Regions from separate parts of the Homo sapiens genome. Here region 1 is linked to region 2. The links come from fine-mapping of genetic effects on gene expression. A gene starts in region 2. The other region holds a variant in brackets. All regions are shown on one strand. Distances are from middle to middle.

Region 1 (15,555 bases), 170 kb after region 2:
ACTTTATCTGCTGGCCACGCACGTGTGCAGCGGCAGGGCTGGGTTTTCTGGAGCCTCTTCCACACTGTGGCCTGCTCAGCTGCCCACGGAGGGACGGCCTGGCAGCCTGGCGGGCACGCCCACCTCTAAAGTCCTGGGCCTCAGTGGGGAGGCTGAGGGCAGGCACAGGGTGCCCAGGGGGCGAGTTCCATCCCTGGCTGTCTGTTCAGGGCCTGCCGGGAGGGAGCCTGAGGGGCCCGGCTGGTTACCAGACACCCCCCTAGCTGCTCAACCAGGACCCCTCCAGATGCCGCCGCGAAACTCCCCAGGTGTGGCAAACAAGTCCCGGGCCCTCAGGGGTGGTCGACCAGTCTCCCCGCCCCCGGTGACTGATCAAAGCACGACTCCCACCCCAGCTCCAGGGACCAGGCAGGTCGGGACCGACAGAGGCAGCCCCGGGAGACCCCGCTGGGGCCGGGAGGGGCCCCCCGGGCTGGCGGCGCCGTCAGGCACCCGCAGTCACTGCGGCTGACAGGAGATGGGGGCCCCCCTCTCCGCGGGCGCGGCCTCGGGGCCGCCGTGGGCAGCAGAGGCGCCAGGGCGTCCGGGAAGTCTGGGCCCGCAGCTGCCCCCGGGTCCCGCGCGCGCCGAGCCAATCCCGAGCCCGTCAGTCGCGCCCCCGCCAACCCCCCCACCCCCATCCCCGCCGTAACCCTTCCCTCTCCGCGGCGCGGCCGGGTGCTGGCGCGGAGCGTGGGGGCCCCGGTCTCTGCTCAGGCAGAGGGCGCAGCTGCGGGTCCCAGCGCCAGGACCAGCCCGGCCGCGCCGCCGCCCCTGCCCAGGACCCCCACCCGCGCCGGGCCCACCCTCGGTCCTTCCTCCCGGCCTGGAAGATAGCAGTGATGACACCACAAACGACCCCCGCATATACCAGCAACGGTGCGCCCGGGGGGCCTGACCCCAACCCCCGCATATACCAGCAACGGTGCGCCCGGGGGCCTGACCCCGACCCCCGCATATACCAGCAACGCCCGGGGGCCTGACCCCGACCCCCGCATATACCAGCAACGGTGCGCCCGGGGGCCTGACCCCGACCACCGCATATACCAGCAACGGTGCGCCCGGGGGCCTGACCCCGACCCCCGCATATACCAGCAACGGTGCGCCCGGGGGCCTGACCCCGACCACCGCATATACCAGCAACGCCCGGGGGCCTGACCCCGACCCCCGCATATACCAGCAACGGTGCGCCCGGGGGCCTGACCCCGACCCCCGCATATACCAGCAAAGGTGCGCCCGGGGGCCTGACCCCGACCACCGCATATACCAGCAACAGTGCGCCCGGGGGGCCTGACCCCGACCACCGCATATACCAGCAAAGATGCGCCCGGGGGCCTGACCCCGACCACCGCATATACCAGCAACGGTGCGCCCGGGGGCCTGACCCCGACCCCCGCATATACCAGCAACGGTGCGCCCGGGGGCCTGACCCCGACCACCGCATATACCAGCAACGGTGCGCCCGGGGGCCTGACCCCGACCCCCGCATATACCAGCAACGCCCGGGGGCCTGACCCCGACCCCCGCATATACCAGCAACGGTGCGCCCGGGGGCCTGACCCCGACCCCCGCATATACCAGCAAAGGTGCGCCCGGGGGCCTGACCCCGACCACCGCATATACCAGCAACAGTGCGCCCGGGGGGCCTGACCCCGACCACCGCATATACCAGCAACGGTGCGCCCGGGGGCCTGACCCCGACCCCCGCATATACCAGCAACGGTGCGCCCGGGGGCCTGACCCCGACCCCCGCATATACCAGCAAAGGTGCGCCCGGGGGCCTGACCCCGATCACCGCATATACCAGCAACGGTGCGCCCGGGGGGCCTGACCCGGTGCCCTTCATGAATCCCGTGGCCCAGGAAATGGGCTGAGCAGAATCCCACCTGCTGCAGGGCCAAACCCCCCTCCCTTCCCCCCTGCCCCTCATCCCTCCCTTCCCCCCTGCCCCTCATTCCCTCCCCTCCCACCTGTCCCCTCATCCCTCCCCCATCCCTTCCCCTCCCACTTGTCCCCTCTCCCCTCCCACCTGTCCCCTCATTCCCTCCCCCATCCCCTCCCCTCTCCCCTCCCACCTTCCCCTCATCCCCTCCCCCTACTCCCCTCTCCCCTGTCTCCTCTCCCCCACCCCCTCCTCCCCTCCCACCTGTTCCCCCATTCCCTCCCCCGTCCCATCGCCTCCCCCTTTTCCCTCCTCTCCCCCGCCCCTCCTCCCCCTCCCCTCCCTCTGTCACCTCCCCTGTCCCTTCCTCCTTTCCCTCTTCACCTTCAGTATCTTTGCCTCCTCCTCCCTTTGCAGACACACTGCACACAGGCCTCTCCCAGGCCCTGCTTTCCTTTGAACCATATCTTGTCTCTTTTCCCTTTTTCAGGGAAACTTCCAAAGAACTGGCTGTGGCGGACACCCTATCTTTCTGGCTCTGTGACCTTCCCCTTCCAGCTGCTGCCCCCACCAGCCTGCACCCCTGTTCTGAGAGGCCATCCGCACCTCTCGGTGCCTGCCCTCCTGCCCGCCCTCCTGTGGGCCTGGCCTGCTCCACACCTGCTGTCCACGAGGAGGACCGGCTTGTGCTGCCCTCCGACTTGGCCACACTGGTTCCTGCTGCCTGCAGCTTCCATTCTAACAGGTGTGGGGCTGATCACGAACAAATCCACTAATGAATAAATCAGAAAACTTGTAGGTAGTTATCTGTGGAGAATTAAGGTGATTGTCACTGGGTCAGTCTGGGTGTCTAAGGCCCCATCCTGACAGGGGAACTGTGAGCCTCGCCTTGGCCAGAGGGAGACCCTTCAGGTGGAAGGAACAGCCTGGGAAGTCCCGGGGGGCTTGGCGAGCAGGGGGCAGGGAGCCAGTGATGGGCCCTCCTCCCAGATCGGGGAGGGTCTGTACTCTCTCGGCTGGTCAGAAGGACCGGGCAGGAGGGAGGTGAAGAGGGTGTTTCTTAGCCCTGCGGGATCCCCGAGGAGGGGAAGTTTTCCTGAAAAAGGGAGGGTCCCATGGAGGAAGAGTCAGCTCCAGATGCTCCCTAATCCCAGAGAACACAGACTCCAGCAGGTAAAATCAGGTGCGCCCACAGCCTCACCTCTCCTCCTTGTCCCTTGAGGGTGGGCAAGGAAACAGACAGTGACCCCAGCCCCTCTGGCCAGTGCAAGAGGCTGCAGGGCCTGACATTCTCATCATGGAAAGAAGACTTTTTTTTTTTTTTTTTTTTTTTTAGGAGACACAGTCTCCCTCTGTTGCCCAGGCTGGAGTGCAATGGTGTGATCTCGGCTCACTGCAACCTCCACCTCTTGGGTTCAAGCAATTCTTTCACCTCAGCCTCCCCAGTAGCTGGGATTATGGGCATGCACCACCACACCATGCTAATTTTTGTATTTTTAGTAGAGAGATGGGGTTTCACCATGTTGGCCAGGCTGGTCTTGAACTCCTGACCTCAAATGATCCGCCCACTTTGGCTTCCCTAAGTGCTGGGATTACAGGCGTGAGCCATCATGTCCAGCCAATTTTTTTTTTTTTTAAGATAGGGTCTCACTCTGTCACCCAGGCTGACGTGCAGTGGTACTGTTTTGGCTTGCTGCATCCTGGGAAAGGAGAGTGTAACAGCACTTTAAGGAACAGAAGCCTTTCAATGGCCAGAGAGTGACAGAAAAGTCTTAGGGAGGTAGGGGAAAACGAGAGGCCTGGGAGCCGGGCTCCCGGGACGGCGGTGGCTCAGCCTTCTCTCCTGCGGAGGTGCACCCAGCCCATGCTCCCTGCACTTCTGGCCTCCTCGGGTGTGGTGAATGAGTGTGCTTAAAGGGGAAGCGACAGCCCATGCTCCCTGCACCTCTGGCCTCCTCGGGTGTGGTGAATGAGTGTGCTTAAAGGGGAAGCGACAGCAGACTCTGGCACTGGCTGTTCTGTCTGTGGCTAAGGAGAATGCCCGGGACGTGTGCTGCCTGCAGGGGTGGCAGGACACCAGCTGCAGAGACACCTCCTGTGCTGCCCTCCGGGGTGGGCTCCAGACTCTCTTCCCGGCTCCTGTGCACTTCAGGTGCGGGGGGCCAGCTGAGTTGAAGGGGAGAGGCAGCTGAGTTTCCGGCACTGTCCTAGCCGGCTCTCCTTCATGACCACAGAGACCACCTTGCTCAGAGAGCTGCCCAGGGAGCTGCTGACTAGGGACCCCCACAATTTTGCTGAGTGAGAAAGGGCTGAGGGTGAAAAGCAGGCAGGTCTGAAAGCCAGAGGGCATCTCTGGTTGCACACAGGATGCTCTCACCTCCAGCAGGAGGGTAGCAGAGCCCAAGGGACTAAACATGGAAGAAGGTGAAATACTCAACCAAGGCCAGAGGCCAGGGTCCTGGTTAGGAAAGCTGGAGGCCCTGGCGGACGCGGTGGAGACACCTGGGCAGACATCTGAGTCCCCACTCTTCCTGGAAACTCTGAGCCTATGCAATCAGCTCCTCCTTGGGCACTGGGCCTGAGAAAAGGCCAGCTCAACGGCACATGCTGGGCTGCTGCAGGACACAGCTAGTCCTGGCAAGAGGGTGGGTAGTGAGGAGGGCTTTGACCCAAGAAGATGGCCCTCCCGGGGCTGCCACTGAGGAGACTGAACATGCTAAAGGCCAAGGTCTGCTGTGGAGGCAGGGGTTGAAGCTCCAGGAGGCCCAGAAGGAGCGGGGCCAGCCTGGCAGCAGGCCAAGGGCAAGAGTGCCTGGTGGTGTGGATCTGGGTGGGGGCTTGGTGGGCCGGGTCAAGGGCAGGGCTGGGGGCCAGAGGGGTCCTACCCGTAGTTCAGGGAGATGGGAGGGTGGGCTTAGTGAGGATTTCAGACGTGGGCCTTCATGGTCTCCTGGGGGGTGGACGAAGCTGGTCGTGGTGGAGCCTGGGTGAGGGCAGAGGTGGTACACCCCAGAAGACCCTGCTCCAGGCCGCGGTGGGGTGGGCCCTGCAGCCAGCTTGACCTATTTATTCTATTGAGATGAAATTCACATAACAAAATTAATGACGTTAAAGCAAACAATTCAGTGGCATTTAGCGCTTTCATCTTGTCCTGCAACCCTGACCTCGACCTCGTCCCAGAACACGTCCTCACCCTGAAGGGGAACCATACACGTTAAGCAGTCGGTCCCTGTTGCCCCCTCCCGCGAGCTCTGGCAACCACGATGTCTTTTCTTTATCTGTGGATTCCCTGTTCTGGACATTTTCACGTTTCCCAGGCTCGTCCCTGTCGCAGCGACCGCCTGGGGCTGATGTTCCAGCTGCGCACTGGGCCGCCCTTTGCTGTGAACATTTGCCGCCGGCACGCGCCCAGTCTTCAGCTCTCTGGGGAGCGCCCGGGAGGGGAACTTCCGGGCCTGTGGGAACTTCGTGCTCAACTTTCTGAGGAAGGTCCTTTTGCACCGCGGCTGCACCCGCCCCGACAATGCGCGAGGGGGTCCAACGCCTCCATCTCCTCGGCAGCACTTACGTCCGCTTTTCTGAAATCACAGCCATTCTAGTGGATGTGCCTGGCTGGGTTTATGTCTGTTTTCTCGGTGAACGTGAACGGGGGTTTCGGGCACAGGCGGGGACAGCAGTGAGGAATGGGCGGACGCCCGGGCCCCCCTCACTGGGTGCCCTGCCGGGGTTCCCTGGGACGCGGTGGGGCGGGGAGGGGACCCAACAGCCTCCCCCGCCACGAACGTCCCCAACAGCCTCCCCCGCCACGAACGTCCCCAACAGCCTCCCCCGCCACGAACGTCCCCAACAGCCTCCCCCGCAGCCTTCCCGCACCCCCCGGCACCCCCGACCCTCCGGCCCCCTCCCCTCACCCGCCTCCCCGCGGCGGAGTCCGGCGACGCTCAGAACCGAATTTCCGCGGACAGATCCTCCCGGAACGTGAGCTCTTGACTTTGGAGCCCAGGAAAGACCCCGGCGCTCCGGGCACGCGGCCGTCGTGGCCGCGCGGCTCTTTGTGTTTGCGGGAGGCGGCGGCGCGAGGAGCTGTGGCGCCCCCTGGTGGCGGAGTGCGGCCTGCGCCGGGCGCTGCGGAAGCGGCCACGTTCGGAGGAGGCGGCGGCCACGTTCGGAGGCGGCCACGTTCGGAGGAGGAGGCGGCCGCGTTCGGAGGAGGAGGAGGCCGCGTTCGGAGGAGGCGGCGGCCGCGTTCGGAGGAGGCCACGTTCGGAGGAGGAGGCGGCCACGTTCGGAGGAGGCCACGTTCGGAGGAGGAGGCGGCCGCGTTCGGAGGAGGAGGCGGCCGCGTTCGGAGGAGGCCACGTTCGGAGGAGGAGGCGGCCGCGTTCGGAGGAGGCGGCGGCCACCCGGGCCTGGCGGTGGAGGGGGAGGAGGAGCAGAGGGCGGGGCCGGGGCCGGCGGCCTCTTTGGACCCCGCGGCTTTGAGGGGGCCCCGGCACTCACGCCCTGACCCTGGCGTCCTGAGCCTGCGTCCAAGGGGTTGCCACCTGCCCCGATGCCGCCCCCCACCCCCCCACCCTCTGCTGCGTCCTGGGCTCTACACCCACTGGGGTGGAGGGCTCGCTTCTAATAAAAACGGCAGGACCAGGAAGACCAGGACCCCGGGCCCCTGGGAGTCGCGCTGTCCTCTGCACTGGCCCCTTGTGCATCCTTGTCCCCCTCAGCCATTCCAAAGCCCCGGCCCTCCGCCCCAGGCCTCCCATCCTCCACTCTGAGTGCAGCAGGAACCTCGTGAGATGAGCATGTGGAGGGAGCTCCCCGGGATGCTGGGCTGGGCACAGGGTCTGCAGGGGCCGACGGCCCCTAGGCTGACCTTCCAGAGCTCCCTCTCCAGCCACCCGGGCTCGGCCTGCTGGGAACAGAGCTGCCCCAACCTTGTGCCCGCTGGGCCTCTGTGCAGGGTTCCCAGGACTGCCTTCTGGACACCTTCCCTGCTGGGGTTCTGACAGCGGGGTGGACAGCCTTGCCCAGCCTCAGGGCCGTGCAGCGCCAGGGGTAAATGTGGCTCTCCTTGCACCGCTGCGCCTAGGGCTGCCCTAAGGAAACACAGTCGGTCTCCAAGGCTGGGGCTGCCTCCATGGATGCAGACGGCTCACTGGGGGACTTGAACATCTGTGGATTTTGGTATCTGTGGGGATCCTGGAATCAGTGCCCCACAGATACTGAGAGATGACTGTACCACAGACTGGGTAGGTTAAACAGAAATTAATTTTCTCACAGTTCTAGGGGCTGGAAGTCCAGGGTCAAGGTGTGAGCTGGGCCTTTCCTGGCGAGGGCTCTTACCTGGCTTGCAGATGGCCGCCTGTTCTGTCCCCACACGTCGGAGACAGGGAGTGGGTGCTCTGGTGCCTCTTTTATAAGGACACGAATTCTATCAGATCAGGGCCCCACCCTTAGGGCCTCATTTGACGTTAATTACTTTCTTAGAGGGCCCGTTGAACACTTGTTCAATGAACCAGTTGACGAAAAAGATCACAGTCACACAAGCTAAACCGCAGCACACACCACGCAGTGGTGGGGAGGTGGTGCGAAGTCAGAGTGTGTGTCCCCCCGCCCCAAATTCCTGTGCTGAGGCCCTAACCCCCAGGACCTCAGAATATGGTTGTTTGGAGATGGGGTCTTTAACGAGGCGATTAAGGTGAAATGGGGTCATGGGGCGGGCCCTGATACAATGTATAAGAAGAGGAGATGAGGATTTAGGGAGAAGACGGTGTCCACAAGCCAAGGAGAGGCCTCTGGAGAAGTCAGTCTGTGGACACCGTGACCGCGGACCTCCAGCCCCCAGAATTAGCAAATAAACGCTTGCTG[A/G]AGACGCCGCGCAGCCGGCGGGGCTCGGTTATGGCGGCGGCACTGACTAGCACAGGGGCAACTCTTCAGCCCCTCACACGGACCCGCATCCCGGGCCCCCTCGTCCCCTCACGCATGGGCACCCTCTGTATCCAAATCCAGTCTACCTTTCAAAGGAGGAATCTTGAACCTGGATTGACCTCCCAGAACTCAGGTGAGGGGGGATTATTATTATGACGATTTTTTTTTTTTTTTGAGACAGAGTTTCACTCTGGTTGCCCAGGCTGGGTGCAATGGCGCGATCTCGGCTCACTGCAAGCTCCGCCTCCCGGGTTCATGTGATTCTGTCTCAGCCTCCCGAGTAGCTGGGACTACAGGCACCACCACGCCCAGCTAGTTTTTTTGCATTTTTAGACGGGGTTTCACCATGTTGGCCAGGCTGGTCTTGAACTCCTGAGCTAAGGTGATCCACCCACCTCGGCCTCCCAAAGTGCTGGGATTACAGGCATGAGCCACCGCTCCCGGCCTATTATTACTATTAATTAGCCCCACAAACGCACCCCTCTCTCCTGTCTGGGAGCCCAGCCTAGGTTCTCCTTCTAGGCAGTGCAGGGCAGTGTGGGCTGGAGCATTGGTCAGTGTTGGCCAGAATGGCCGTCCTTCCTCTGAGACGAGGGCCCAGGAGATGAGCGGGGGGTGCTCTGTCCACTTCCAGGTTTTGGGCTCTGTTGGGAGACACCCAGGAGTTGCCCCTCCTGTAGGTGACCCCGAGTGCTCCTGAGCTGTACAGTCGCATGGCACCTCCGGAGGGGAAGTCACCCTCCTGGGGCCGCTAAGTCACCTGGTGTCACACACCCACCTCCAGCCGCCTCGCTCTCTCCACCCAGGGTCTAGCATGAAGACTGGCCTCAAGATGAGGTGCTCATGGGCACCTCCCAGACCCACACCGCACCCTGATGTTTCTTGGTAAACAGGGTTGCCTACATTTCATGCCTAATTTGTGTTAACCGAAGAAATTCATATTTTAAACATTTTGCATAACTGGAAATGTATTCCAAAATGTTTCACTTTTGACATAGTTTTGTGAAAAGGTGAAAACAGGACACGCTTGTGTACACACATGCCTACATGGAGGTAGGGAAGCATGTAGTCAGCACTCCTAAAAGCAGCCCTCGAGTGTCTGCTCCGTGTGGGCATTAGGAAAGGGAGGAGCAGGTGGGGTGGCTGTTGCCACCCTGAGTGTCAGGGAGTTTATGCACCATCTTTACCGCTAGACTGTGAGCTCCTTGGGGGCACACCGAGTCTCTGTCACGATGGATTTGCCTAGCAGGTGCTCTGTAAACACTTGTTCAATGAACCAGCTGACGAAAAAGATAAAACGCTCCATTTACAGGCCCAGCAATAGTAAAACGAACACTGCTGTGGCTCCCACTTTGAGAACGCATGTTGCAAATGCGTCATATGTCCTGTGAGTGACACACACTCTCTCCACAAACTCCAGCCTGGCTTCTCAAGGCCTCCTCTGGGCAAAGCCCCGTCTTTGGTCTGTGAAGACTTGGATAAAACAGCAACATAGTTTCTCACAGCCCAAGGGTCTGCCATCGCCACATGCCCACCTGAGCAAACTGAAGGCTGTGGAAGAAACTCCTGTTCCGACACCTGAGGAGACACCTGGGCAGCTGCCAACCAGGTGGGCTGAATGCACATGGACCAGCCCCTGCCCACCTCCACTGAGCCCCTGGTTTCCCTCTTTTCTTGTACTCTCTCTGTTTTCACTTTACATACACTCTTTTTTTATTTTTTGGACACAGCGTTTCACTCTGGTTGCCCGGGCTGGAGTGCAGTGGTGCAATCTTGGCTCACTACCACCTCGACCTCCGAGGCTCCAGCGATCCTCCCACCTCAACCTCCCAAGTGGCTGCGACTACAGGTGTGCGCCACCACACCTGGCTAATTTTTGTATTTTTAGTAGAGATGGGGTTTTGCCATGTTACCTAGGCATGTCTCCAACTCCTGAGCTCAAGTGATCCACCAGTCTTGGCCTTCCCAAGTGCTGGGATTGCAGGTGTGAGCCACCATGCCCAGCCTACTAAATAAACTCTTTTTAAAGAACGGTTTTAGATTCACAAAACAATTGAGAAGACGGAACAGAGTTTACAAACGCCTGGCACCCAGTTACGCTGGTACTAACGTGTTACATTAGCGTGGCACTTGTTACAACTACTTGTTACAACGAATGCACCAATATTGATGGATTCTTATTAACTAAAGGCCACATTTTATTCAGGTTTTCTTAGTTTTTACATAATGTCCTTTTCTTTTCCAGGATCCCAGGATATATTCCATTTAGTAATCAAGTCTCTTTAGGTTCCTAAACTGTGAGTTTTTCAGACTTTCCTTTTTCCATGACCTTGGCAGTTTTGAGGAGGGCCAGTCAGGTATTTTGGAGAATGTCCCTCAATTAGGATTTGTCTATTTTCCTCACGATTATACTGAGGTTCTGGTTTTTTTTGGGGAGAAAGACCCAGAGTCAAGTGTGCAGAGGTCAAGTGATCACTGCCGATGTTAACCCTGGTCCGTCTTCACTCCACCACTGACCTCCACTCTGCACTCCTGAGAAGGAGGTCACTGCGATGAGCCACGTTGGAAGAAGGAGGTCGCTGCGATGAGCCGCGTTGGAGAGGTGGGGAGTTAGGCTGGATCTCCTCAAGAGTGGAGCCTCCACTTAGGTTATTTAGAACTATTCTGCACTGGAGATTTGTCTGTTCTCCCCCATGATAGATATTTAACCTCACGTTTACATATCAGGATGGACTCAAGTTCCCTTTAAAATGTGGGGTGACTGTGGGGGCAGGGAGGTCTGTGAAGGGGCAGGGTCACCTGTTGCCATGAGGAGGGTGCTGTTTGTGTATGTGACGCTGTGTGTGGGAGGCCTTGGGCCTGGGATGGTGTGGAAGGGCCAGCGCAGGAGTCTGAGTGGGCTGGCATCTCTGGCCTCAGCCAGCAGGACCACCCCCTGCTTACTTGCCCAGATTTTATCTCCAGCATCTCCTTTATCCTCATTCCTCACACTGGTTTGGTCTCCCATCCCACCCCATCCCTGCATCCCATCCTGTTTCAGCCAGTGTCCCACTTCCTGGGCTGGTACCCATCTCCCTGCAGCCGGGGTGCACGTGCTGAGCCATCAGTGGACCTGTCTGGCCACAGTGTGGGCCTCTGTGAGCCATGGGATGAGCCAGGCTCCCTGGGGGACAGTGGGGCAGGAGTACAGCTGACGATGCCACGCTGTTGTGCTAAACATCTTCTGATTTTTTTCAGAAGAAGCCAGAAATCCAGATTTTTAAAACATGGAATCTCCTTAATCGCCCTTTCAGAATCAGCATCCTGGTGTGCCAGGCTCGTCCTGGGTCTCCAAGCGATTTCCCCCTTCGTTCCCCACTCTCTCTCATGTCCCTGAAACCCCTCGGACACCTGAGCTGATGTATTGGCCGCTCGTCCCCATATCTGCCACGGGGCTCCATGCCACGTGCTTTCTGCTCAGGCCCGTGTTATTGGACTGCAGACCTGGGGTGAGTGCCCGTCATCCAGCACTGATTTGGATCCATCTGTGGACGCCGTGTCTGAGCACTTAGGAGTATTCCGTGCAGGCACCCCCCATTCTGGTTTGCTTATTCCCTCACTGTGGGCCAGAAGGTGCCCCCAGCCGGGCGCGGTGGCTCATGCCTGTAATCCCAGCACTTTATGGGAGGCCGAGATGGGCGGATCACGAGGTCAGGAGATCGAGACCATCCTGGCTAACATGGTGAAACCCCGTCTGTACTAAAAATACAAAAAATTAGCCAGGCACGGTGGCGGGCGCCTGTAGTCCCAGCTACTCGGGAGGCTGAGGCAGGAGAATGGCGTGAACCCGGGAGGCGGAGCTTGCAGTGAGCCGAGATCGCGCCACTGCACTCCAGCCTGGGTGACAGAGCAAGACTCCGTCTAAAAAAAAAAAAAAAAAAAAAGAAGGTGCCCCCAACTCCCAGGATCTGAAGCAAAGCTGAAATGAGCGCGCCCACAGCTGTTCCCTCGCAGTTCCGGAAGTGGCCTGGAGCAGAGGCTGCATCACAGGACGTGAACACTTCACGTTGCCGAGTGCCTGCAGAGTGCGTTCTGGAAGACGCCCATCCGCTCACAAGCTCCCAGTGGTGCCTCAGGACCTCCACCTGTCACATGTTTGCCGACCGCTGTGTACATATAAGGGGTACAGTGGTGTGTGACTTTTGTTTTTTAATGCATTCAGTTGGAAGAGTTTAAATGTTGAAATGAGAATGACTTAATATTGGTTACTGTTGGGAACAGGCCCCCCAAAATCTGGCCATAAACTGGCCACAAAACTGGCCATAAACAAAATCTCTGCAGCACTGTGACATGTTCATAATGGCCCTAACGCCCACGCTGGAAGGTTGTGGGTTTACCGGAATGAGGGCAAGGAACACCTGACCCGCCCAGGGTGGAAAACCGCTGAAAGACGTTCTCAAACCACAAACATAGCATGAGCGATCTGTGCCATCAGGGCATGCTCCTGCTGCAGATAACTAGCCAAACCCACCCCTTTATTCCGGCCCATCCCTTCATTTCCCGTAAGGGATACTTTTAGTTAATAGAAACAATGCTAATGACTGGTTTGCTGTTACTAAATATGTGGGTAAATCTCTGTTCGGGGCTGTCAGCTCTGAAGGCTGTGAGACCCCTGATTTCCCACTTCACACCTCTGTATTTCTGTGTATGTGTCTTTAATTCCTCTAGTGCCGCTGGGTTAGGGTCTTCCTGACCGAGCTGGTCTCTGCAAGTGGCGTCCATCGTGGGGGCTCGAATCCAGGTCGAAGGGTCGCCAGAGCGACGGTTGGAGAACGTGGAACTAGCTGGAGGACACCTGAGTACTCTTAAAGCCATCCCCGTGGTGAGTAAGAAGGGGAGCTCGGAAGCATCAGGGTAACAATGGGACAGGCGTGGGGTCTGGTTCGTTTCACCTTGGAACCTTTTCACACTGATGAGGAGGAGGAAGGAGAGTATAGCGACGTAACAGAAGAGGTTACAGACCAGGTTTGTTTGCCAGCTAAAGCTGAAGCGGCAAAGGAGGGAGAGGTTCATCCCTACCCTTCTGCACCCCCTCATTATTATTTTGAAGAAAATGACCCTCCAGGTATTTCTTTTCCAGAGGACTGTGGGCGAAAAGTAGTTGCCCCAGTGACTGAGCAGCGCCTGGAGCGACTGCTCTTAGTTCTATTCAGGCAGGAATTCAGCAAGCTAGAAGAGAGGGTGATTTAGAGGCTTGGCAGTTCCCTGTTAGAATACACCCCCCAGATCAACAGGGAGATATTATAGCTACATTTGAACCTTTTCCTTTTAAATTACTCAAAGAATTTAAAGAAGCTATTCATACTAAAAAAGAATGTAGAAAAAAAATCAGTGAGTCGGCTGTCAGATAGGGGAAAAAAGAGAACTGCTAAGCTGAAATATGTCCAAAATGTAAAAAAGGAAATCATTGGGCTAACCAATGTCACTCTAAGTTTGATGAAGAACGGAACCCGATTTCGGGAAACACCATGAGGGGCCCATCCTAGGCCCGTTCTAAACCGGGGCATTTCCAACTCAGGCCATTCCCTCCCCACCGTACAATGTCTGTCCCCTGCCACAGCTGGTAGTGTTGCAGTAGATTTATGCTGCACAAAAGCTGTGAGCCCTCTGCCTGGGGAACCCCTGCAAAAGGTCCCAACAGGAGTCTGTGGACCCTTGCCAGCAGGGACGATAGGATTACTTTTAGAAAGGTCTAGTTTAAGTTTAAAAGGGGTACAAATACATACAGGAGTCACTGATTCAGATCACAATGGGGAAATTCAAATTGTTATATCTACTTCTGTTCCCTGGAAAGCAGAGCCAGGAGATCGGCTCCTGATTGTGCCATATGTGGGAATGGGGAAAAGTGAAATTAAATGAACAGGAGGATTTGGAAGCACAAATAAACAAGACAAAGTGGCTTATTGGGTAAATCAAATTACTGATAAACGTCCTACCTGTGAAATAACTATTCAGGGAAAGAACTTTAAAGGTTTGGTAGATACAGGAGCAGACATTTCAATTATTTCTCTACAGCAGTGGCCGTCCGCGTGGCCAATTCAACCCACTCAATTTAACATAGTTGGAGTTGGTAAAGCCCCTGAAGTATATCAAAGTAGTTATATTTTGCATTGTGAAGGGCCCAATGGACAACCTGGGACTATTCAACCAATTATAACTTCTGTACCTATAAATTTATGGGGGAGAGATTTATTACAACAATGGGGAGCACAAGTTCTAATTCCAGAACAATTATATAGCCCTCAAAGTCGACATATAATTCATGAAATGGGGCATGTTCCTGGTATGGGACTAGGAAAATATTTGCAAGGTTTGAAAGAACTGCTTCAAGTGGAAAGACAAAGTTCCTGCCAAAGATTAGGATATCATTTTTGACGGCGGCCGTTGTTAAGCTTCCAGAACCTATACCTTTACAAATGGTTAACAGATAAGCCAATATGGATAGAATAATGGCTGCTAAGCAAAGAGAAACTGGACGCTTTAGAGAAATTAGTTACTGAACAATTAGAAAATGGGCACATAGCTCCAACATTTTCCCCTTGGAATTCTCCAGTTTTCATAATTAAGAAAAAATCAGGTAAATGGAGAATGTTAACTGACTTAAGAGCCATCAATTCAGTTATACAACCTATGGAAATATAACAGCCAGGATTGCCTTCTCCTACTATAATTCCAAAAAATTGGCCTTTAATAGTCACAGATTTAAAAGACTGTTTCTTTACTACCCTTTTAGCTGAGCAAGACTGTGAACGATTTGCATTTACAATTCCTGCAGTAAACAACCTGCAGCCTGCTAAGCGTTTTCATTGTTTCACAGATGGGTCCAGTAATGGTAAAGCTTCTTATTCTGGATCAAAAGGTAAAGTTTTCCAGACGCCCTATATTTCAGCTCAAAAAGTGGAGCTTGTAGCTGTAATTGAGGTATTGACTGCTTTTGATATGCCTATTAATGTGATTTCTGATTCTTCATACATGGTTCATTCCACACAGTTAATTGAAAATGCTCAGTTACGATTTCATACAGATGAACAACTGATAATAAAAACAAAAAAGGGGGGAAACAGGGATTACGGGACAGCCCAGACACAATTGAATCTTGCATTATTAACTTTCCATTTTTCGAGCCTTCCCAAAGGCCAGATGTTACCAGCAGCTGAACAGCATCTACAGAAACCAGCTGCAAAGACACAAGCAGAACAACTGGTTTGGTGGACAGATCCAATAACAAAAAGTTGGGAAATAGGTAAAATAATAACTTGGCGTAGAGGTTATGCTTGTGTTTCTCCAGGACCGAATCAACAACTGATTTAGATACCATCAAGACACCTGAAACTTTATCATGAGCCAGATGCCGAGAAAGAGATTAAAAGCACAATCATCATTGAAATTACAGAGCTTCTGGCTGGGCGCGTGGCTCACGCCTGTAATCCCAGCACTCTGGGAGGCCGAGGTGGGCGGATCACAAGGTCAGGAGATCGAGACCATCCTGGCTAACACGGTGAAACACCGTGTCTACTAAAAATACAAAAAATTAGCTGGGTGAGGTGGCGGGCGCCTATAGTCCCAGCTACTCGGGAGGCTGAGGCAGGAGAATGGCGTGAACCCGGGAGGCAAAACTTCAGGTTTTGCCAAGAATGACACTGTAAATGTAACAAAGCTTCCGTGCTTGT
Region 2 (15,555 bases):
CGGGGAGCAAAGCCCCCGCCAGGCTGGCCCCACGCACTCCGCCACCGTGTGCTGGGGGCAAGGAGGTGGGACGGGGGTGGAGGAGAGTCCAGGTTGGGGCTGCCTGGTTGGGACCCCCCGCCCCGCGCCGCACATTTTCTGCCACAGGCCCATTCCCCAGATGCAACCTGTGCAGGTGGGACCTGTGGTCCCCGAACCCCCAGCTCGGAGTGAGGTGGGACAGAGTGTGGGTGTGCGTTTCCATCGGCCGGCCGGGCTGCGTGGGGGCTGCAGACACGGGCCCCGGGAGGGCTGCCATGGCCATCTGGGGGGGCAGCAGTGTGGGGGTGTTTGCTGACAGTGATGGGCCTGGCCAGAGAGGGCTGAGCTGGGGCAGGACAGGCCTTGAGGGCAGAGGGCCCGGGCACCAGGATGCCAGAGCGCGGGCCCTGCTCTCGTAACCGTGCCCTCCACCCAGGCAGAAACGTCCACTGCCTGGAGGGTCGTGTCCTTAGACACCTGCATCCCTGTCCCCAAAAACCCCCAGCCTGAGGTTTGCAGCCAGGGAGTATCTGGGGGAGCATTGGCTCTGCCCTGGGCCCTGGCCCAAGAAGTGTCCTGGGGCTGGGAGGGTCACTGGTCCTGGGGAGAAAGGGAGGGACTGGACAGCCCAAGGCCACTCTGAGCCCAGTACCCACCGCCCCACCTGATGCCCTGGGCCACGCCCCTGTGACGCGGGAGCCCCCAGACTCCTCCTGTGGGGAAGGAGACAGGGACCGAGATGGGAGCAGAGGGAAGGAGACAGGGACCGAGGTGGGGGCGGAGGGAAGGAGACAGGGACCGAGGTGGGGGCGGAGGGAAGGAGACAGGGACCGAGGTGGGGGCGGAGGGAAGGAGACAGGGACCGAGGTGGGGGCGGAGGGAAGGAGACAGGGACCGAGGTGGGGGCGGAGGGAAGGAGACAGGGACCGAGGTGGGGGCGGAGGGAAGGAGACAGGGACCGAGGTGGGGGCGGAGGGAAGGAGACAGGGACCGAGGTGGGGGCGGAGGGAAGGAGACAGGGACCGAGGTGGGGGCGGAGGGAAGGAGACAGGGACCGAGGTGGGGGCGGAGGGAAGGAGACAGGGACCGAGGTGGGGGTGGAGGGAAGGAGTCCACATCCCCCTGGAAACTCCACTCCTGCATTTGCACCAGGCTGGGCGTCTGGTTTGGAGGATAAAATCGGAAACAGGCACGAACAGCAGGTCCAGCCAGGCAGGGTCTGGAGGCCAGGCCAGACACAGACAGGCACCTCCCAGCCCACCCTCTGAGCAGCCCCCCAGGCCCCATCTCTCAATTCTGGGTCCCCTCCTCCTCCTCCCACCCAGTGGCCCAAACCAAAAACCCAGGGTCATCCTGACACCTCCACATATCCCCCTCAGCTGGCTCCCCACGTCCCCCACCTGCGCACTCGCGATTGGCCCTTGGGCAGCACGTGGTCAGCCAGGACCTGTGGCAGCGAGGGGCACGCCCTCCTCACTGGGCACAGGAGGGACACACTGAGCTGGGCCTAGGGGCGGCCCCAGCACGTCAGGGGCAAAGCTAGACCCAAGTGCACGTCCCGGAGCCCTGCTCCCCCGCACCGGCCTCCCCTCTGCACATCTGGGCCCTTGGGAAAGAATTCCAGTCCCACGGCCAACAGAGCCGCTGCATTTGAGGCAATGGCCCAGCACGGGGCGGGGCGGGGTGGGGCGAGGCCGGGGGCCCCACAGCAGCCTGGAAGGCCCCTCCCCGCACCGGCCGCACCACGTCCCCAGGCCTGGCAGTGCCAGGTGTGACCCGTAACCGAGGCCTGGAGGGGAAGGAGTCCCTGAGAGGGCGTGAGGAGACCGAGTGAAGGAGGTGAGGGGTCAGGTGCTCACACCAGCATCCATGTCTCAAGCATGGGCACGTGTGCTCACACACGCCCACACGCTCACCAGCCCAGCCTCCCGCCCACTGGCTGCGACGGAGGGGACCAGGCGGGCCCACCCCCTGCCCTGGAATCTGCCAGCCAAGCTGCTCTGAGCCTCCCGAGAGCCCTGAGAGACCGTCTGAGCTGAGAGAAGGGGAGCTGCTGGCTCCTCTCCTGCACAGGGAGGCCTGGCCTGGCGCCGAGACCACACATTCCTCCGGCCTTTCCTCACCTTTGCCTCCGGCACGAGTGTCAGCCGGGAGCCCAGAGTGACCTCAGTGCCAGGATATTCCCAGGAGCTGTCGGGAGGACGTTCCCAGAGCTGCAGGGGCCAGGGTGCTTCCTGGAGGCGGCATGTGACCCGAGTCACGGACCTCAGGAAGCAGGAGCCTCCGACGAGTGCTTTCAGGGCCTCACAGCGGCCCTGCACAGAGTCCCCATAGCCTCAGCCTCCCCCCACGGAGTCCCCATAGCCTCAGCCTCCCCCCACGGAGTCCCCATAGCCTCAGCCTCCCGGCACGGAGTCCCCATAGCCTCAGCCTCCCCCCACGGAGTCCCCATAGCCTCAGCCACCCCCCACGGAGTCCCCATAGCCTCAGCCTCCCCCCACGGAGTCCCCATAGCCTCAGCCACCCCCCACGGAGTCCCCATAGCCTCAGCCTCCCCCCACGGAGTCCCCATAGCCTCAGCCTCCCGGCACGGAGTCCCCATAGCCTCAGCCTCCCGGCACGGAGTCCCCATAGCCTCAGCCTCCCCCCACGGAGTCCCCATAGCCTCAGCCTCCCCCCACGGAGTCCCCATAGCCTCAGCCTCCCCCCACGGAGTCCCCATAGCCTCAGCCTCCCCGCACGGAGTCCCCATAGCCTCAGCCTCCCCCCACGGAGTCCCCATAGCCTCAGCCACCCCGCACGGAGTCCCCATAGCCTCAGCCTCCCCGCACGGAGTCCCCATAGCCTCAGCCTCCCCCCACGGAGTCCCCATAGCCTCAGCCTCCCGGCACGGAGTCCCCATAGCCTCAGCCACCCCTCACGGAGTCCCCATAGCCTCAGCCTCCCCCCACGGAGTCCCCATAGCCTCAGCCTCCCCCCACGGAGTGCCCATAGCCTCAGCCTCCCCCCACGGAGTCCCCATAGCCTCAGCCTCCCCCCACGGAGTCCCCATAGCCTCAGCCTCCCGGCACGGAGTCCCCATAGCCTCAGCCTCCCCCCACGGAGTCCCCATAGCCTCAGCCTCCCCCCACGGAGTCCCCATAGCCTCAGCCTCCCCCCACGGAGTCCCCATAGCCTCAGCCTCCCCCCACGGAGTCCCCATAGCCTCAGCCTCCCCCCACGGAGTCCCCATAGCCTCAGCCTCCCCCCACGGAGTCCCCATAGCCTCAGCCTCCCCCCACGGAGTCCCCATAGCCTCAGCCTCCCCCCACGGAGTCCCCATAGCCTCAGCCTCCCCCCACGGAGTCCCCATAGCCTCAGCCTCCCCCCACGGAGTCCCCATAGCCTCAGCCTCCCCCCACGGAGTCCCCATAGCCTCAGCCTCCCCCCACGGAGTCCCCATAGCCTCAGCCACCCCTCACGGAGTCCCCATAGACGCAGCCTCCCCCCACGGAGTCCCCATAGCCTCAGCCTCCCCCCACGGAGTCCCCATAGCCTCAGCCTCCCCCCACGGAGTCCCCATAGCCTCAGCCTCCCCCCACGGAGTCCCCATAGCCTCAGCGTCCCCCCACGGAGTCCCCATAGCCTCAGCCTCCCCGCACGGAGTCCCCATAGCCTCAGCCTCCCCCAACGGAGTCCCCATAGCCTCAGCCTCCCCCAACGGAGTCCCCATAGACTCAGCCTCCCGGCACGGAGTCCCCATAGCCTCAGCCTCCCCCCACGGAGTCCCCGTAGCCTCAGCCTCCCCCCACGGAGTCCCCGTAGCCTCAGCCTCCCCCCACGGAGTCCCCGTAGCCTCAGCCTCCCCCCACGGAGTCCCCGTAGCCTCAGCCTCCCCCAACGGAGTCCCCGTAGCCTCAGCCTCCCCGCACGGAGTCCCCGTAGCCTCAGCCTCCCCCCACGGAGTCCCCGTAGCCTCAGCCTCCCCCCACGGAGTCCCCGTAGCCTCAGCCTCCCCCCACGGAGTCCCCGTAGCCTCAGCCTCCCCGCACGGAGTCCCCATAGCCTCAGCCTCCCCCAACGGAGTCCCCATAGCCTCAGCCTCCCCCAACGGAGTCCCCATAGCCTCAGCCTCCCCCAACGGAGTCCCCATAGACTCAGCCTCCCGGCACGGAGTCCCCATAGACTCAGCCTCCCGGCACGGAGTCCCCATAGACTCAGCCTCTCGGCACGGAGTCCCCATAGACTCAGCCTCCCCCCACGGAGTCCCCATAGCCTCAGCCTCCCCCCACGGAGTCCCCATAGCCTCAGCCTCCCCCCACGGAGTCCCCGTAGCCTCAGCCTCCCCCCACGGAGTCCCCGTAGCCTCAGCCTCCCCCCACGGAGTCCCCGTAGCCTCAGCCTCCCGGCACGGAGTCCCCGTAGCCTCAGCCTCCCGGCACAGAGTCCCCATAGACTCAGCCTCCCGGCACGGAGTCCCCATAGACTCAGCCTCCCGGCACGGAGTCCCCATAGCCTCAGCCTCCCGGCACGGAGTCCCCATAGCCTCAGCCACCCCGCACGGAGTCCCCATAGACTCAGCCTCCCCGCACGGAGTCCCCATAGACTCAGCCACCCCTCACGGAGTCCCCGTAGACTCAGCCTCCCCGCACGGAGTCCCCGTAGCCTCAGCCTCCCGGCACGGAGTCCCCGTAGCCTCAGCCTCCCCCCACGGAGTCCCCGTAGCCTCAGCCTCCCCCCACGGAGTCCCCGTAGCCTCAGCCTCCCCCCACGGAGTCCCCGTAGCCTCAGCCTCCCCCCACGGAGTCCCCGTAGCCTCAGCCTCCCCCCACGGAGTCCCCGTAGCCTCAGCCTCCCCCCACGGAGTCCCCGTAGCCTCAGCCTCCCCCCACGGAGTCCCCGTAGCCTCAGCCTCCCCCCACGGAGTCCCCGTAGCCTCAGCCTCCCCCCACGGAGTCCCCGTAGCCTCAGCCTCCCCCCACGGAGTCCCCGTAGCCTCAGCCTCCCCCCACGGAGTCCCCGTAGCCTCAGCCTCCCCCCACGGAGTCCCCGTAGCCTCAGCCTCCCCCCACGGAGTCCCCGTAGCCTCAGCCTCCCCCCACGGAGTCCCCGTAGCCTCAGCCTCCCCCCACGGAGTCCCCGTAGCCTCAGCCTCCCCCCACGGAGTCCCCGTAGCCTCAGCCTCCCCCCACGGAGTCCCCGTAGCCTCAGCCTCCCCCCACGGAGTCCCCGTAGCCTCAGCCACCCCCCACGGAGTCCCCGTAGCCTCACAGCCCTGCACGGAGTCACCATAGCCTCAGCCTGCCCCACGGAGTCCCCATAGCCTCAGCCTCCCGGCACGGAGTCCCCATAGCCTCAGCCTCCCCCCACGGAGTCCCCATAGACTCAGCCTCCCCCGACGGAGTCCCCATAGCCTCAGCCTCCCAGCACGGAGTCCCCGTAGCCTCAGCCTCCCCCCACGGAGTCCCCGTAGCCTCAGCCTCCCCCCACGGAGTCCCCGTAGCCTCAGCCTCCCCCCACGGAGTCCCCGTAGCCTCAGCCACCCCCCACGGAGTCCCCGTAGCCTCACAGCCCTGCACGGAGTCACCGTAGCCTCAGCCTGCCCCACGGAGTCCCCATAGCCTCAGCCTCCCGGCACGGAGTCCCCATAGCCTCAGCCTCCCCCCACGGAGTCCCCATAGACTCAGCCTCCCCCGATGGAGTCCCCATAGCCTCAGCCTCCCAGCACGGAGTCCCCATAACCTCAGCCTCCCCCCACGGAGTCCCCATAGCCTCAGCCTCCCGCCACGGAGTCCCCATAGCCTCAGCCTCCCGGCACGGAGTCCCCATAGCCTCAGCCTCCCCCCACGGAGTCCCCATAGCCTCAGCCTCCCCCCACAGAGTTCCCATAGCCTCAGCCACCCCGCACGGAGCCCCTCACAGAGCTCCCACCCCTCCCCAGCTCTTGAGTCCCCAGCCCTCCCTGTCTGAAAGCCCAGCCCCAGCCCGCGCCCCGCTCTCTGAGCATCCACCCCTCCCTGTCTGAGCACCCAAATCCGCTCTCTGAACCCCCCTAACCCCCGACTGAGAGTCCTCATGGAACTGGCAGGGGTCCCCCCAACCCCTGACTGAGAGTCCTCATGGAACTGGCAGGGGTCCCCCCAACCCCCGACTGAGAGTCCTCATGGAACTGGCAGGGGTCCGGCCCTTCCTGAGCCCAAGTCCCTGTGCTCCTCCTCGGGGTGTTGCCCCCTGGCCTCTGCAGTCCTGGTTCCCACTTCCCAGCATCCCTTGGGCTCCAGGATGCCCGCGGCAGCCCTGGGGGAGCCTCTGGGTCCCTACTGAGGGGTCGGCGGGCACCTGCATGGGAGTTGCCTGAGGGCAGTCTGTGGGGTGGCCCGGCCAGCTCTCCCACTAGGGTGGGTCCCTCACTCCCAGCCCCACCCAGTGTGGCACCCCCCCAGGCTGGTGTGTGGAGTCCCAGCTCAGGTCCGGCCCAGGCCTCATGGCGGGGATGGGGCTGTGGCAGCCGGGTCGGACCTCCCCTTGCATGAGGTCCACTGGGCTGGGAGAGAGACGCCTCAGTGAGGTGGGGAGCTGGCAGCTGGACAGCCTGGGGGTGCAGCTCTACACCAGGCCCTCGGGCCCACAGCGGGGTGTGCGGGGGACGGGGCAGCCCATGCCACTGGCTGCTCCTCTGAGACCCACACATCCTCCATCCCAGCCCTGCCAGCCTCAGCCCCCAGACTCTCAACCAGCTCCAGCCCTGGTCTTTGCACAGACCAGTCCTGTAGTCTGCTAGGGCATGTGGACATGGCATGTGTGTGTGTGTGGACACAGGGCACGTGTGTGAGAGCATGTGGACATGGCATGTGTGTGAGAGTGTGGACACGGCGTGTGAGTGTGGACACGGCGTGTGTGAGTGTGGACATGGCATATGTGAGCTTCCGGACACGGCACGTGTGTGAGAGCCTGTGGACACGGGGGCATAGAGCGTGTGAACACATGGCCCATGTGTGAGAGCAGCCACGTATGTGTATGGATGAGGCAGGTGAGCACATGGGTGGGTGTGGGCAGGGAAGTGGCAGGAATGGGCTGTGAGGGCAGGCAGCAGTGAGCAAAGGGCAGGGGCAGGCTGGGCATAGGTTGTGGGGGGCTCGGGGAGGGCCCCTGCTAGGAGGCCCACCCAGGAGCTCAGGGGCCACAGGGACCTGGAACTGCGGTGAGCAGCTTCCAGCAGGTGCTCCAGCCTCCTGGGGCTATAGGGAGAGAGGGCTTTGTCCAAGCACACACCCCAGCCCAGACCTGCCCAGGCTGCAGCGGCTGTGCTGACCCCTACCCGGCTCCGACCCTCACCCCTCCCTCCCTGCCCTCCAGCTGCCTGGCCCGCCAAGGAGAGGATGAAGCCAGCCAATCCCTGAGGCTTGCGGCCACACCCTTGGCCCATAGGGTATAAATAGACCTGCTTGGGAGCCCACACCCAGCAACTCACACCTGCCTCAGACCAGAGCTCTGTGCGGGTGACGGCGCACGCATTCCTTGTGTCCCCGCCTGTCTTGGACAGAGCAGAAGCCACACCTGCCAGACCAGTGCCACCGGGACAGCTGCTGGTGGCCGGCCCCGGGGAGGGATACCTGCTGGGTGAAGCACAGGCCGGGCCGGGCCCGGAGAAGAGGAAGCAGACACTGCCACGGCAGGGCAGCCCAGGGCCTTGGAGCCCAACCGTGGCCGGCGAGGAGGACCACGCCCAGGCCCGCTGACCCCCGGCCACCAGGTAAGGCCAGCTCAGCCCGTGTTCACCCCTTACCTGCACAGGCTCAGGGTGGGGCACCATCGTGGAGGGGTGGGGCCTCGTGCCAAGGAACCGGTTCTGTGGGGTACACAGGCCGCAGAGCACAGTCCCCAGGTCCCGGTGCCTGGGGCACTCACGGCCTCACAGTGACGGCGTGTGACTCAGGTGGTCACAGTGACCTGTGTCATCCCGCCAGCCTGTCTGGGACTCACTGGCAAGTCAGGGGTGGGGCGGGGCAGTGCCAGGAGTCACTTCTGGGGCAGCCTCCTGGGCCCCACGGGGACGCACGGCCAGGCCCTTGAGTCTCACTGTCACCCTTGCCCACTTCCCTCCAGGTGGGACCCCTGTGGCTCCCTGCAGCGGATCCTGGGTGCAGGGGAGGGGCGGGAGGTGGAGCAGGGTCCCAGGTCAGCTGAGATGCCCACCTGAGCCATGCCCAGGGGCAGAGCAGCATCCCCCAGTGTCCGTCCCCCAGGGTCCCTGCCATGAAGTGGGATTGGGTCAGGGAGAAGAAACACCCACTCAGTGGGCGGCTGAGGGTGCCCTGACCATCACCTGACCATGAGGCAGTGGGCTGGCCCAGAGGGAATGGCTGGGCTTATCCAAGTCCCACCCCCACACTGTGCACATCAGACCCTCAGCAGCTAGACAAGCCGGCCCCGCAGGCCGCAGGTCGTGCCTGACGTGCACCTTCCTCGGGCACTGACCCCTGCCCCTGCCTGGGCCCTCCCTGTCGTCCCAAAGCCCCCGGGGCTCAGCCCGGTCCCCAGACCCAGAGACCCCCACACCCCACCCTCACATAGCTGCCTACAAATCAGGCCTGCACCGCCCAAGCCAGGCACCCATCCTGGGATCTGAGTTCAAACTCACTTCACTTGACTTGGAGTCCCTGGCCTGCCTGAGAGCCGTATCTGCCAGGGTCCAGGGCCCGCCAGCTCCCTTGGGGTGGCCCTGGCCGAGTCACCCATGCTCTGGGCGGCCTTTTCCACACTGTGGCGTTGTGTGAGTCCCGTGATGTGGGCCCAGCCTTGCAGAGCTCCGACATAAACAGTGACGACTGTGGCTATTGTCATCCTCACCATTATTTCTGCCCGGGCAGCAGGGCCAGCCAGGTGGGGCAGGGCCAACAGGAGGTGTCTGCCGAGCGGTCAGTGAGACCCCCCTACACACGGCCTGCATTCCCGGAGCAGGCCTGGGGCCCTGTGGGAGGCTCACCCCGGTGCAGCCATGTGATGGGGTGGAGAGGACAGGATTGCACGTGGGGCAGAATGACCTCCAGGGGCACCGGAGGAACTTTCTGGAGTGGCGCGCAGGAAACAGAGTCCTTCCCTGGGATCTCTGGGGCGAGAGAGGGGAGGGAGAGATAAAACACCACCAGAAAGGGGCGGCCGGTGATTGCTTACCACAGTCCCTGTCCCACAGCTCAGAGACATGTCGTCAGGCCAGCAGGTGTGGCACACGGCTGTGCCACCCCCTCGCCGGAGCAGCTCCATAGCCTCGATGCCCAGGTCCCCCAGCTCGGCCGGCAGCCCCAGGTCCCCTGGCACCCCTGGCTCGGAGAGGGTGGCCTCCCCCCTGGAGTGCTCCATCTGTTTCTCAGGCTATGACAACATCTTCAAGACACCCAAGGAGCTCTCCTGCACCCACGTCTTCTGCCTGGAGTGCCTGGCCCGGCTGGCGGCTGCTCAGCCTGTGGGCCGCCCCGGTGGTGAGGCTGTACCTTGCCCCTTCTGCAGGCAGCCCACGGCCGTGCCGCCCGCCGGAGCCCCCGCGCTGTGCACCAGCCGCCAGCTGCAGGCCCGGATGCCGGCGCATTTGCGGCGTGAGGAGCCTGTGTGGCTGGAGGGCACCAAGCTGTGCTGCCAGCCACTGCCCACCACACCTGGCCGCGAGCCCGGTTTCGTATGCGTGGACGTGGGTTTGAGCAAGCCTGCCGAGCCGCCCGCGCCCGCCCGGGACCCTGCCCCCCGCCGGGGCCGCCTGGCCCGCTGCTGGGCGCGCTGCAGGGACTGGAGGCGCATGGCACTGGTCTCTGCCCTGCTGCTGATGCTCTTCTGTGTGGCACTCTGGCCGGTGCAGTGCGCGCTCAAGACCGGGAACCTGCGCTGCCTGCCCCTGCCCCCCCGGCCCCCGGCCACCAGCACAGCCGCCTCCCCCCTCGGGCCTCTGACTGATAATTAGGGCCAGCAGCCTCTGCCCAGGTCAGCCGCCCTCGCCCAGCTCCATGGGGCGTCCCCCACTGGGGGGCCCAAGGGCACAGCAGCCACTGGAAGTCGGTCCCCGAGGACGCGAAAGGAGCCTGGCATCTCTGAGGACTCCACCGGGGCCCCACCAAGACCAGGCTCCATTTAGCTTGTCCACCCCTCATTCTCCAGGCTGGGTCCTGACGGGGTGGACAAGAGGATCCCCAAAGCCTCCAAGAACCACAGTCTCACCGGGCGCGGTGGCTCACGCCTGTCATCTCAGCACTCTGGAGGGCTGAGGCAGAAAGACCACTTGAGGTCGGGATTTTGACACCAGCCTGGCCAACATGGTGAAACCCCATCTCTACTAAAAATACAAAAATTAACCGGGCATCGTGGTGGGTGCCTCTTAGCTACTGGGGAGGCTGAGGCAGGAGAACTGCTTGAACCGGGGAGGTGGAGGTGGCAGTGAGCCAAGATTGCACCACTGCATCCAGCCTGGGCGACAGAGGGAGACCCTGTCTCAAAACAAAACAAAAAAAAACAGGCTCGTACAGGAAGGGTCCAGGAGAGCAGCTGGTCAGCATCCCCCCCACCCACACACCCTGTGAACTGCCTGCCAGGGAAGCCCCTTGCCAAGAAGGAAGGGGCCTTGCCGTGCTTCCACTCATGCTGACATTTCCCCGCAGGGCTGGTCCTGCCATTGGGTGGGGGTGCTCATCTTGCCCTCGGACTGTGGGGAGAGAGTGGAGGCAGGGCAGCCCCCCAGTGCAAGGTAACCACAGAAACTTCCAGCTACCCCTCCAACCTTGTGAATTGTACCTTTTAAAATAAATTATTTGTATCCATCTTTGGCAAGAGGGCCTCACCCTGGGTGCCCCTGCTGCAGCCTCAACCCAGAGGATACCCTGACAGAATTAGACTCCCAGCAGCCACTGGGACAGGTGGGCCCAAGGTTCTAGGGGGTCCAACTCCCAGCCCCTCTGGCTGCAGACAGGCTGGGGGTTTCTGGAGTTGGCTGGCGACTCAGCAATGTGAGGCTCCCCAGGGAGATGGGGAGAGGCCCAGGACACTTGGGGCAGGGCAGGCTGGACCAGGGGGAGGGCTTCAGCTTGGTTCAGAGCCCGGGGGCTGACAAAGGGGGCCTTTCTCTTCCCCCATCCTCTGCCGTGGCCATACTAGGCCACACCTCCAGGAAGTCACGCCCCATGGCCCTGCTAGGGTCCCTGACTGGAGAACCACAGAACCATGACCCCTGTGGGAACCCAGAAGCAAAGGTAACAGCCAGCGTGCAGCCTGCAGATCCACTGACTCTCCGGCAACTCCCAGGGCCAGCCTGGCTGGGGAAGAGTCAGAGGTCAGCTACGTGAGGTATCGGCAGGAGGCTCGCCAACCCCAGCCCTACCCCGTCTGTCATCAGCCCCAGGAATCCTGCACCACCAGGCAGGCACGGCCAGGAGGGCCCAGGCCAGGTCCAGCTCACGCAGGCCTCCTCAGCCTTCCCATCCCTGACCCCAGAGCCCAGGTACTTCCTGCTCCAACCAGCTGGGCCTCTGGTCCAGGGTGGGGAGGGCTCGGGAAGGCCCCACAGAAGCTGACTCCAGCTGTGGGGGCCACACCCACCCTTGCCCCAGGTCCCAGCGAAGACACAGAAGGGAGAACACAGCACTTTACCGGAAGGCTGTGAAAGCCGGTGATGTGGGGAGTGCAGCCACGGGTCACAGCAACATCACTCTGTGTCACACACACAGTCATGCCCACGCAGGCCCACACCCTTGTCATCGGCAGGGCCAGGCGCGTGACGCTGCACGGGTGGTCACATGAATATGTCACACACACCTCACTCCACAGACATCCACCCTGTGCCTGATGGGGCCGGGTCCTCACCGGGGCCACATCCCAGACCACGGGAGCAGGCAGGGCCGGCAGGCCGGAGCTGCGGTGAGGGCAGACCCGCACGGAGTGGCCGAGCTGGGGGCGCACGCGGGTTCACACGTGGTCACCGGTGGGCTTCGCAGCCTGTCGCTCCCTCTGCCGCCCCTGGACCTCCCTGAGCTGGGGACAAGCTTGTGGCTCTGTCCTGGACACAGTCCCGGCCCGCAGCTCCGGCCACACGCGGGCGCGGCTAGGCCGGGGGTTCCCTGCGGCTCCTCAGACACCCGCGGCTCCGCAGGTTCGCGTCCTCGCCGTCCCAGGGCTGCGGGGTTCTGCGCGCGGAGCAGCGGCTCAGCCCTGCACCCCGCACGTCCCAGTCCCTCCCAGAGGACTCCGGACCGGCCCCGGCGCTCCACTCACACCGGGGATGCCCGGGGAGCCGGGGGCTGCAACCCGATTAGCGGGGGGCGGCGCCCACGTTTTGGTTCTCGCGCTCCTGAGGCGGCTCGCGCTGGGGGGAGGGGCCGCCGGTCACCATGGCGACGCCCGCACAGGCCACGCCCCGCAGGGCCACGCCCCCACCTGCTCGCGCAGGCGCAGTTACTCGCCCCGGATGTGCCGCTGCAGCGCCAGGTACGTGAACTTGTACGGAGCCTCCGTCTGCACCATTCCCCAGTGCTGCCGCCAAACCAGCTGGATCGTCTTCGGGACGTCGGTGTCGCAGTCCAGCCCTGCGGACAAGCGCGCTTGGGGAGGGGCTACGGATGGGGGGAAGGTGCCGGCAGGCAGGGGCGGGGCTGCTGATGAGGGGCGGGGCTTGCCGGTAGCGGTGGGGTCGTCCTGAGGGGTGGGGTCGTCCTGAGGGGTGGGGTCGTCCGGAGGGGTGGGGTCGCCCGGAGGGGTGGGGCTATAGCAGGGCAGGGCGGGGGGACCCAGAGTGGAGCGGCTCGCCCTGCCTGCGGATGACGTCCACCAGGATGTCAATCACGATGATGGTGCCCGTGCATCCGATGCCCCCACTGAGGACAAACTAGGCGGCCTTTGACGAGAGTGGGGGGCGGGGGCGGGGGCGCCCCCGCCCACCCGATGGCTCCGCCCTCGTCGTCCCGCGTGGCCCCGCCCCGCCGCACCTGCACCTGCACAGCCCGCGTGGCCCCGCCCCGCCGCACCTGCATCTGCACAGCCCGCGTGGGCCCGCCCCGCCGCAGCTGAAGTGCACCACCATGGGCCCGGCCCGCGGCTTGCTGCTCTGGGCCCGGTTCACCTCGTCCCGGAAGCCGAGGACGCCGGCGGGATCGGCCCGGACGCCGTAGTCCGGCCAGCCGAAGTACTGGAAGTGCTGCACCGTACGCTGTGGCTCCTCCTGAGCGGGGCAAGCGGTGAGTGTGACCCCAGGGTGGGAGGAGGAGGCTGAGGCACAGCTGGGTTTCCGGGAGTGCCCAAGCGGAGGGGCTGCGGGAGCCAAGGCGAGCAGGAGGAGGAGGAAGGAAATGGGGAGGGGGCGCCGAGATGGCCCCAGGTGGCTCAGGTGCCTGGGGAAGGGAAGAGGGAGCTGGGGGCGGGCGAAGCAGGCTGTGAGGACAGTTATTTTATAAGGAAAAACCAAATGTGAGGGGTCCATGGGGTCCTGGAGGACCCCCCCACACACACTGGGCGGGGGCTGGAGGGAACACGAGGTAATCTGCCCGGAGCAGAAATGGGCGTCTCTGGTATACAACGGAGACCAAAGCTGCAGTTGGAGAGGTGTGTGGGAGGAGCGGCCGCCAGCCCAGGGCTGAGAATGTGGCCACGTCAGTGACCCCTGTCCAGGCTTGGAATGCACCTCCTGGGTTGAGGGGTGTGGAAGCCCCCAAAGGCAGTGGGGTTGGATGCAGGCAGGTGTGGGGTCTCCCAGTGCAGGCCGACAGCAGGCACGCTCCACAGCCGCCAGGCTCACCTGGCCCGGCCGCCACACCTGCAGCTCCCGCACGCAGTAGCCCTGGGCCTGGCCCTTGCCGAGGACGCGCATGTGCACACGGCCGAACTCTTGGCTGCCGGGCAGCTCTGGCCAGTCCCGGAAACACTTGTTCCGAGGGGAGCGCTTTGCATCAGCCTTGCTGGCAGCACCTCGGCACCCCGCCCCTGCGACCTGCAGAGACGCAGGTGTGTACGTGCAGCCACGGGGCTCTGTGGGAGCCTCCCCACTCCCACGGCGTCCCACAGCCTCCTTGGCCTGGTCGGGAAGGGCCTTGGGCAGCCGAAGATGCACGGGGTGGGATGGGCACTGGGAGCACTGGCACCGCACCCCTACCCGGCCCCGCTCCATCTCCCTGGTGGTCATGACGATGACACGCGTGTTCTCCTGGTGCACCGTGGCCCAGAAAGCAGCCACCGTGGCCTGCAGACAGGCCTGCAGACAGCCCTGCAGGCGATGTACACCCTGCGCCCGCGAGGCCCTGCCCCGCGGGGAGGAGCCACAGCGTACGGTGCAGCACTTCCAGTACTTCGGCTGGCCGGACTACGGCGTCCGGACCGATCCCGCCGGCGTCCTCGGCTTCCGGGACGAGGTGAACCGGGCCCAGAGCCGCGAGCCGCGAGCCGCGGGCCGGGCCCATGGTGGTGCACTTCAGCTGCGGCGGGGCGGGCCCACGCGGGCTGTGCAGGTGCAGGTGCGGCGGGGCAGGGCCACAAGGGATGTCCACCCTGCCCCTGCCATGGCCCGGCTCCTCCTCAGGGTCAGTCTGAAAGGGAATGAGGCCAACTGCTGCTGTTAACAGAGGACAAACAAGTCCATGCAAATGCTATGCAAATGATATGCAAACGACACACAAATATTATGCAAAGAGCCCTGGTGGCTTAAACACACTCCTCACTCCAGGCCAGCAAGGGGCTGAGGACCAATGCCCGTCCAGCCTCTCTGAGGACCCCTTGGAGACTGCCGCCCACCCCTCCCTTGGGGACCCTGGTTCTTCCTGAGCCCCCCAGGAGCAATGGGCCCAGGCCCCGCCTCCCGCACACACCCACCCTGATGTAGTCGGCTCCGGGCCCGCTGTCATCCTCGTTGAGCAGGATGACTCAAGGGTAGCATCAACTGGGAAGGGAGGTGCCGCTCAGTTCTCCAGGGCACAGCTCGTGGGCCTCACCCTGCCTCTTTGCCCGCAGACCCTGTGGTGAGCAGAGATGGAGGGTCCAGGGTATGCAAGGGGGAGCCTCAGGTCAGCGGTGGCAGATGCTCGGCCTGCCCCCCACCTCCCCCAGGCCCGACGGGTGACGCCCTGGCCTCCGCCCTCACAGGGAAGGATGTTCTTGTAGTGATTCTTGGGCTTGTTCTCCACACTCTGCCCCTCCTTCCGAGGGTACAGGAACCGGCATTCCTGCTGCTGCAGCATCTGGAGGTGATGGAGCCTTCAGCTCACAGCCCCGGCCCCTTCCCAGAGCCCGAGATGGCCACCCCCAGCCCGTCCCGTGTGGGCGGAAGAGTACCTAGGTGCCGAGGCAAGAGACTGAAGGCACAAACTGTTTCAGTATAATAAAGAAAATAGAATAAGAATAGTCATAATACAAATTAGATACAGCGATGATCATGAACAATTATCCATCATTATTATAAACATTATTAATCATTAGCTTTTAATATTACTCTGTTGCATTAATAATATAACCTAGGAATAACCGGCAGGTATAGGGTCAGGTGCTGAAGGGACATTGTGAGAAGTGAATAGAAGGCAAGAGGGGAGCCTTCTGTCA

Which allele goes with the higher level. Alleles are on the strand shown, and positions count from the first base shown. SD is a standard deviation of normalised expression in the study named.
For the expression in monocytes after Pam3CSK4 of the gene that starts at base 7,463 in region 2, allele G in region 1 goes with a higher level than allele A (moderate effect, 0.55 SD a copy in Quach 2016).

What was found. PIP is the estimated chance that this variant, and not a neighbour inherited with it, causes the effect.
Region 1: its variant is fine-mapped to the expression of RNF223 in monocytes after Pam3CSK4 (Quach 2016, PIP 0.95).

Annotation. Positions count from the first base shown.
Region 1 is chr1:895,239-910,793 of GRCh38, reverse strand. LOC284600 (a long non-coding RNA gene) reads right to left here and starts at 5,679. Exons shown (of 5, transcript XR_007065342.1): 1 at 2,582-5,679. RefSeq lists silencers at 5,925-6,034, 12,666-12,826. The variant A/G (reference allele first, on the strand shown) is at 7,787.
Region 2 is chr1:1,066,214-1,081,768 of GRCh38, reverse strand. RNF223 (ring finger protein 223) reads left to right here and starts at 7,463. Exons shown (of 2, transcript NM_001205252.2): 1 at 7,463-7,753; 2 at 9,194-10,802. The coding sequence starts at 9,203. The coding sequence ends at 9,952. LOC100288175 (a long non-coding RNA gene) reads right to left here. Exons shown (of 4, transcript NR_148960.1): 4 at 15,316-15,555. LOC105378948 (a long non-coding RNA gene) reads left to right here and starts at 12,432. Exons shown (of 5, transcript NR_168433.1): 1 at 12,432-13,208; 2 at 13,729-13,971; 3 at 14,971-15,023; 4 at 15,171-15,303. RefSeq lists enhancers at 1-567, 568-1,270, 7,271-7,770, 11,706-12,471, 12,443-12,557 and silencers at 1,478-1,577, 1,638-1,717, 12,116-12,515, 12,636-12,705, 12,866-13,055.